Regions from separate parts of the Homo sapiens genome. Here region 2 is linked to region 1. The links come from fine-mapping of genetic effects on gene expression. A gene starts in region 1. The other region holds a variant in brackets. All regions are shown on one strand. Distances are from middle to middle.

The links. PIP is the estimated chance that this variant, and not a neighbour inherited with it, causes the effect.
Region 2: its variant is the best candidate, but not a certain one, in a credible set for the expression of THSD1 in whole blood (TOPMed, PIP 0.51).

Annotation. Positions count from the first base shown.
Region 1 is chr13:52,404,017-52,408,547 of GRCh38, forward strand. THSD1 (thrombospondin type 1 domain containing 1) reads right to left here and starts at 2,156. Exons shown (of 5, transcript NM_018676.4): 1 at 2,015-2,156. RefSeq lists a silencer at 2,086-2,245.
Region 2 is chr13:52,431,643-52,435,642 of GRCh38, forward strand. It overlaps VPS36 (vacuolar protein sorting 36 homolog), which reads right to left. Exons shown (of 14, transcript NM_016075.4): 5 at 3,151-3,240; 6 at 2,020-2,106. Among named protein-coding and RNA genes, the nearest start is that of VPS36, 17 kb to the right of the region's middle. The variant G/A (reference allele first, on the strand shown) is at 2,122.

The DNA.
Region 1 (4,531 bases):
GGCTCACTGCAACCTCCACCTCCCAGGTTCAAGTGATTGTCCCACCTCAGGCTTCTGAGTAGCGGGGATTATAGGTGTGCACCACCACGCTTGGCTAATTTTTGTATTTTTAGTAGAAACGGTGTTTCACCACTTTGGCCAGGCTGGTCTCAGATGTCTGGCCTCGTGATCTGCCCACCATGGCCTCCCAAAGTGCTGGGATTACAGGCGTGAGCCACCACACCCAGCCCACAGTTAATCATTTTAATAAGCAAGTATATTATATTCCAAATACATGTTACATCTTTTCAGATAAGAGCACAAATTAGTGGAATTAAGAAGACTGATTGAAATAAGCCAGAATTCAATGGAAGGGAAACTGGTGTGTCTTATTAGCTTTCTTTCAGCAAGAGCTGCTGAACAAAGGAAATACTGTACTTCCTGAAAGGGAAACAGAGATTTGAAGTGTAACTATGCAGATTAGGGCTCCTTCCTCTTCCCCGCCACCCCCACCCAAAAAAAAGAAAAGAAAGGAAAGAAGAAGAAAATTGTTTTGGGTGGAATTAGCCACAGACTTGACCCAATTCTTTCCTCGAACATGGACTGGGAAACCTGGGCAAAGTCAGCCAGTAAGATCCTTGCAGAACACATCACATCACTTGGGCAAGTGTGAGCACTTAAGACAATTACAATGCTTCTTTTAAGTCACTGAGACCTGGTAACCAAACTAAGAAGAAGCAAGCTCCCAAAAGTTGAACTGGCTTCTCTCAGATTTGTTTGCTTCCACGACAATAACATTTTTATTTTTGAAGCCCCAAATCATTACTGATTTAGTGATTATAACACATTTTCTTTCTTATGAAAATGATCGGTAAAACATAGAATGGTGAGACAATCTATATTTAGAGCTGAATGGAAAAAGACTTATAAAACAGACCAGCCTACTTGTCAATCATAATATGGAATATGATCATAACATTAGTCATAATATGTCTCTTTAATTTCTTTCTACCTTGCTTATTTTCTTTCAACATGTTGTTCTCAATACCTCGACTGACTTCTTACAATGTTTGCATTGAGAATTGTTCTAAGAAATTAAGAACTTAGATATATTTTATACACATTTGAAAATACTTCTACCTAGCATTCTTGTATGTAAACTTTAGAGACAAATTCTAAATGCATCAGCTGAGAAGGTGGGGAAAAGTTGTGAATATTCTCAATGGCTAACAGCATCACCCAACCTGAGACCCCATGTTTTTGCTGAAACCAGCTAGGACAAACGCTTCTAAATCTCCCTTCATAGCTGCAGAAAAAGTAAATGAATTACACTAATGTCCATGGGACCAATGATTCGTGAAAGAATAAAATGGAAAACGAAGCAGTTATTTTGTCCCTTCTGACCAACATGCACATGCTTGTGTGTATATATACCAATAGTATTTATTGGGAGGAAATCTCTAGTTCTAAAGCAGCTCGTGTAAACAGGCTTCATTTATCTGTTCATTCGAGTTTGCTCTGCCCTGGTCCCACAGGTTGGGTGCAGCGTTCCTGGGACGCCCTGGCTCGCCCCATCTACTCAGCTTCCCAAATGCCCGCAAGCCCAGTTCACGCCTGGAAGTCTACCCCTCGCGTCGTCAGCTTAAAGCCCTCCTTAATGAGGACCGTCTTTAATTTAATTTAATCCTTGTATTTCATACTTTTTGTATATCAGAAAGGATTTCTTTTTGGAAAGAAACAGTAGCTCAAGACGCGATTTTTCAAGGTTCTGTGGCCAGTCTCAGTCACTCGGCAACATCTGAGCCAAGGCAGAGCCAGGTTCACTTAAATTCGGGACTCCGAAGTGTGGAGACCAATACCCCTTAAAAGCGTCCCCTGGGGCCGAGGCGGGTGTGGGGAGGGGCCGCCACCGTCCACCTGCGCCTTCAGGCTGCGGTGAGGTGGCAGAGTCCGGAGGCATTTCCCGACCCCAGAGGAGCCTCCAAGAGTCTCGCGGCACGGGCGCGAACACCAGGATGCGGAGGGCGCTTCTTACCTTTCGAGACTGACGGGCAGCAACCCCAGGCCGTCCGGGCGCGTGGCGAGGCGGACGGGAAGGCTCAGGGGCGGCGAGGTAGAGCGCCAAGCATCCCGCGTCCCAGACTGCACGCCCTGACCCCGCGGCGTTCGGCTCCCACAGCCCCGCGGGGCCCGCCCCCGACGGCGTGGGGAGGGCGGGCGCCGGGAGGGCGGGGGGCACACGGGACCGGGCGTGGTCGGTTCCCGCCCCTTCTGGGCAGCGCATCCTTTCCTGCCGGTCCCCAGCTCGCCAGCTGCTGGACAGGAAACAGGCAGGAAACGCGCGGCCAGCCAAGGTCCTGCGGGAGGGGGTGCGGCCCCGGCAGACGCAGGTCCCCTCAACACACACCCGCATCCACAGCACACAGCCGGACCAGGGGTTTAACGAAGGACGAGCGAGCAATCTCCTGACACTTCACATTCAATCACTTCTACTCTAGTGTCATTTTCTTCAGGGAGACCACAAAAATAAGTCCTTGAAGCGGCACAGCATGTGGGCTGTAAACTTGCTTTCCCAAATGTCACTGAAGAGTTTCAAAAGAACATAGTTCAGGTAAAGTGCATCTCCATTTTCTTTCCCTGGGGTCAGAATTGGTATTAAAAATAACTAAACATTTTAAAAACTCTACTCTGCAAGTGTTAAAGTTCTTTTTATAGGAATGTGAATTAGTTCAGCCACTGTGGAAAGCAGTTTGGAGATTTCTCAACTAAAAACAGAAAGATCATTCGACCCAGCAATCCCATTACTGGGTGTATGCCCAAAGGAAAATAAATCATTCTGCCAAAAAGACACCCGCACTATGTTTATCACAGTACTATTTACAATAGCAAAGACATGGAATCAACCTAGGTGCCCATCAACAGTAGACTGGGTAAAGAAAATGTGGTACATACACACCACGAAATACTAAACAGCCATAAAAAAAGAACAAAATCACGTCCTCTGTAGCAACATGGATGCAGTTGGAGGACATTATCCTAAGTGAATTAACATAGGAACAGAAAACCAAACACCGAATGTTCTCACTTATAAGTGGGAGCTTAAACAACGGGTACTCATGGACATAAAGATGGCAACAACAAACACTGGAGACTCCAAGTCAAGGGAGGGAGAGAAAGGGGCAAGGGCTGAAAAACATCCTATTGGGTACTGTGTCCGGAATTGGTGGGTTCTTGGTCTTTCTGACTTCAAGAATAAAGCTGCGGACCCTCGCGGTGAGTGTTACAGTTCTTAAAGGCGGCCTGTCCGGAGTTTGTTCCTTCTGATGTTCGGATGTGTTCAGAGTTTCTTCCTTCTGGTGGGTTCGTGGTCTCGCTGGTTCAGGAGTGAAGCTGCGGACCTTCGCCATGAGTGTTACAGCTTTTAAGGCGGCGCGTCTGGAGTTGTTCGTTCCTCCCAGTGTGTCCGTAGTCTCGCTGGCTTCAGAAGTGAAGCTGCAGACCTTCGCAGTGAGTGTTACAGCTCATAAAGGCAGTGTGGACCCAAAGAGTGAGCAGCAGCAAGATTTATTGCAAAGAGCCAAGGAACAAAGCTCCCACGCTTTGCAAGGGAACCCCAGCGGGTTGCCACTGCCGGCGCGTGCAGCCTGCTTTTATTCTCTTATCTGGCCCCACCCACATCCTGCTGATTGGTTCATTTTACAGAGAGCGGAGTGGTCTGTTTTGACAGGGCGCTGATTGGTGCATTTACAATCCCTGAGCTAGACACAAAGGTTCTCCACGTCCCCACTACATTAGCTAGATACAGAGTGTCCACACAAAGGTTCTCCAAGTCCCCACAAGAGTAGCTAGATACAGTGTCCATTGGTGCATTCACAAACCCTGAGCTAGACACAGGGTGCTGATTGGTGTGTTTACAAACCTTGAGCCAGATAGAGTGCCGACTGGTGTATTTACAATCCCTTAGCTAGCCATAAAGGTTCTCCAAGTGCCCACCAGTGAGGAGCCTAGCTGGCTTCACCCAGTGGATCCCGCACCGGGGCTGCAAGTGGAGCTGCCTGCCAGTCCCGCGCCCTGTGCCCGCACTCCTCAGCCCTTGGGTGGTCGATGGGACTGGGCGCTGTGGAGCAGGGGGTGGTGCTCGTCAGGGAGCTCGGGCCTCACAGGAGCCCATGGAAGGTGGGGGAGGCTCAGGCATGGCGGGCTGCAGGTCCCGAGCCCTGCCCTGCTCAGGGAGGCAGCTAAGGCCCTGCGAGAAATTGAGCGCAGCGCCGGTGGGCCGGCACTGCTGGGGGACCCAGCACACCTTCTGCAGCTGCTGGCCCAGGTGCTAAGCCCCTCATTGCCCGGGGCCGGCAGGGCCCACCGGCCGCTCCGAGTGCGGGCCCGCCGAGCCCACACCCACCCGGAACTCGTGCTGGCCCGCAAGCACCGTGCGCAGCCCCGGTTCCCGCCAGCGCCTCTCCCTCCACACCTCCCCGCAAGCTGAGGGAGCCAGCTCCAGCCTCAGCCAGCCCAGCCCAGGAAGGGGCTCCCACAGTGCAGCAGCGGGCTG
Region 2 (4,000 bases), 27 kb after region 1:
ATCCCAGCTACTCGGGAGGCTAAGGCAGGAGAATCGCTTGAATCCGGGAAGCAGAGGTTGCAGTGAGCCAAAATAGCGGCACTGCACTCCAGCCTAAGCGACAGAGTAAGACTCTGTCTCAAAAAAAAAAAAAAAAAAAAGAAAGAAAGAAACCAGAGTTTCTCAGATAAATGGTTGATTCCGGATCTGAGGCAGGAAATGTACAAGATGGTCCTGGAGCTTTTGCAACACCAGATAGTGAAGAAGCTAGCAAAGTTCACCTAGTCACAACAAAAGCACTTAGAGGGCCAACTTGAAGCAGCTCCCACTGGCCAAAGATGGGACAATTTGAGCTTCAAATAGGATAATAATTATAACTGATTGAAATCCATCAAATATGCTAAACTCCATGAATTCATAATGACATGTTAAAAAAAACCTAATTAGTTGGCTGGGCGCGGTGGCACATGCCTGTAATCCCATCACTTTGAGAGGCCGCGGCGGCGGATCACGAGGTCAGAAGATTAAGACCATCCTGTCTAACATGGTGAAACCCCGTCTCTACTAAAAATACAAAAAATTAGCCAGGTTTGGTGGCGGGCGCCTATAGGCCCAGCTACTCGGGAGGCTGAGGCAGGAGAATGGCGTGAACCTGGGAGGCAGAGCTTGCAGTGAGCCAGGATCGAGCCACTGCACTCCAGCCTGGGCGACAGAGCAAGACTCTGTCTCAAAAAACAAAACAAAACAAAACAAAAAAACAAACAAACCTAATTAGTCATCGTCAAAAGATAATAAGGAAACAATTTATTACCCTGATGATAAAGGAAAATGCAATTATCCTGCCTTTCCTATATGAACTGGACAACCAAATAGTAGATAAGGGAAACATTTCTTTAAAAAGTATTCCAACTAATAAATGAAAAATAAACACAGAATTATCACTATTTACCACCACCAATGAACTAATAGATCTAGGCACTGAATATTAACAGCTGCTAACATGACAGAGATAAGATGTGCCTCTGACGAAAGAACACAGCATCACCTCTAGTTTTGCCAAACGGACAGAACATGAGTGTGACAGAGATTCTGGATCCAGCTGCCAATTTGGGGAAAATACAGGGTTGAGGAAAATATACAACTTCACCACAGATACATATCCAGAAAAACCTACTATGGGCACTTAATAGGTCAAATGCCCTTGGTTCCCCAACAGTAATCTATATTTTCAATTAGTGAGCCCAAAATAAGTATTTAAATAACTATTTGTAGTTTTAGACTTTACTTGATTGACATAAATCTTTGAAATTCTCTGAAAAGCAACCATCAACAGAATTTTACTTATGAATTACTATAAAAACCAAAGATTTACTTTAAAGCATCATTTCATAAAAAACCAAGACCATTTTTATATAAACATGGAAAAACCAGTGATATGTTTAGCTGTATTAACTAATTACAGAATCTAATGCATAACTGGTCTTTTTAGCTAGAGTTCTTTCCCCTTCTCTTGAATTTCCTCATATATCATGAAGCCTCAGAAACACTGGAATGTACATGCTCAGGGTTGTCCCCCAGTAGAAGTGATGGGCTGCTTTGAGCCGTTCTTACTGATGTCTGGTCTGATCCCTGGGTGGTCATCAACATAAAATGGTGTGGTATCTGGCCACAGACTGGCCACAGAATAGCATTTTTCTCTCAACTAAGTTACTTCAACTTCCAAAATAATTATACAGAGAACCCTGAACTCATTAGGAGTATCCGCCAATCAATTTCATCTAGACTGTAAAATCTACACACAACATTTTATGATGTTTTCTAACAGCAAACAAATTTGCATTTCTTTTTTATTCCTTTTAGAAAAAGGTTTTGGTTAGATTTTGCCAGCCCGAGGTAGACCTGTTAAAGAGAATAGGAGACTATGTAGCTTCAGGCAAATGAAATATATTCTAAATTACAGAAGGGAATTAGGCACAGCTGTATCTAAAAGAATAGACACAAATGGCTGGAATAGATGGAGAGCCAGAATTTAACAGTTACCTCAGAAATGTTTTTGTCAGTTTCTTTTCTTTTTTCTTCCAGTTTCCTTTCAATACCTACAATTCCTACAGCCCTTATTCTTCCTGGCTGAAAAAAAAAAGA[G/A]GTAGAAAATAAAACATACAAAATAGGAAGGAAACAAAATCTTTTGTAACCAACCACATTGTGTTTTCAATGGCGGGAAAGGACCTACAAAGAACCAAAGAAAAACAGCATACACGGACATTTAGCTTCCCTTCAAAACATGTGTTTGTTTCTTGCTGTACATAATGATCTTAAAATCATTCAGGAAAAACCAAATATACAATAAATGGCATATTTTACTCTGCATTTTAGAGATAAGTTAAATTTCCTATCATTTTCCTTCTTTGGCAAGCTATTACGTATCAGATACTTAATAGGGTCTCAAATGTACAAAAAAAATCACAGTTTAAATTTTGGTTCTTAATTAAGTTATTATTCAAGCTACTTTCATACATTTGAGTACCTGTCTAGTGTTGGTGATTAATTTAGACAGGCCTGGAAAACATTACCCAGCTGTACTGTCTATTCTCTCAAATGTCACACTGATTATGAAGAACAGAATGCAGTGAGTGAACCCTACCTTCTATCACCCTAAGAATTACGCTGGTAAGCAGTCATTTATGTTTACTAAGCGTCTGCTGTATAGACAGCACTAAATTAGGTGCTGTGAAAATAATTTTTTTTTTCTTTTTTTGAGACGGAGTCTTGCTCTGTCGCCCAGGCTGAAGTGCAATGGTGCAATCTTGGCTCACAGCAACCTCCGCCTCCTGGGTTCAGGTGACTCTCCTGCCTCAGCCTTCTGAGCAGCTGGGATTACAGGCGTGCACCAACCTGCCTGGCTAATTTTTGTATTTTTAGTAGAGACAGGGTTTCACAATGTTGGCCAGGCTGGTCTTGAACTCCTGACCTCATGATCCACCCCGCCTTGGCCTCCCAAAGTAGTGGGATTACAGGCGTGAGCCACCGCGCCCTACCGAAAATAAATTCTTTATAAGAATACCATTGCAGTATTTTGTTTTGGGCAAGTTCTACAATCACAGAGTCTTTTTCTTAATGAAGATGTAAGTACAGAGTTGAAAATACTGGATTAGCAAATAGTTTTAAAAATACCTGGGGTCCTCTATTTGTTTGTAATGACTGGGAAACTGGCATATTCTCCCATCTTCTTTGTGTCATTTCCTCTGATAAACGCCTGTAAAACTGATACGCAAATAAATACACTTTAAATGACTCAGTCAGATTGTAACATCCTTGTATAAATCATTACTTAACATTTCTTTCTTTTTTTCTTTTTTTTTTTTTTTTTGAGGTGGAGTTTTGTTCTTGTTGCCCAGGCTGGAGTGCAATGGCGTGATCTAGGCTCACCACAACTTCCGCCTCCCCGATTCAAGTGATTCTCCTGCCTCAGCCTCCCAAGTAGCTGGGATTACAGGCATGTGCCACCACACCCAGCTAATTTTGTATTTTTAGTAGAGATGGGGTTTCTCCATATTGGTCAGGCTGGTCTTGAACTCTCGACCTCAGGTGATCTGCCCGCCTCAGCCTCCCAAAGTGCTGGGATTATAGGTGTGAGCCACCGCGCCCGGCCACTTAACATTTCTTCAGTATAAAAGTCTGTTCAGTCATTTGCAGCAAGCCCAGAATTCTCAGAGACATCAAAGAAAATCAAAGGAAGTTCTTTTCTTGGATCAGCTTCAGAAAGCACAAGGGAAAAAAAAAAAGAGAAGGAACTGACCTTCTATATAAAGTGGGCTATTCTCAACAAAGAGATGAGTGACAATGAAATCAATAGACTTACTTTAAACAATCCTGTGTATGTGGATTGTTTTCGATCTATAATGAAACAAACACAGTGCCAGGAAAAATATACAACCATTCTCCATGAAGGAAGCAGAGAATCATTTGTCTAGTTAAAATATAAAACCAAAAAGTAGGACCAAAACATACCTATGCTCACAAA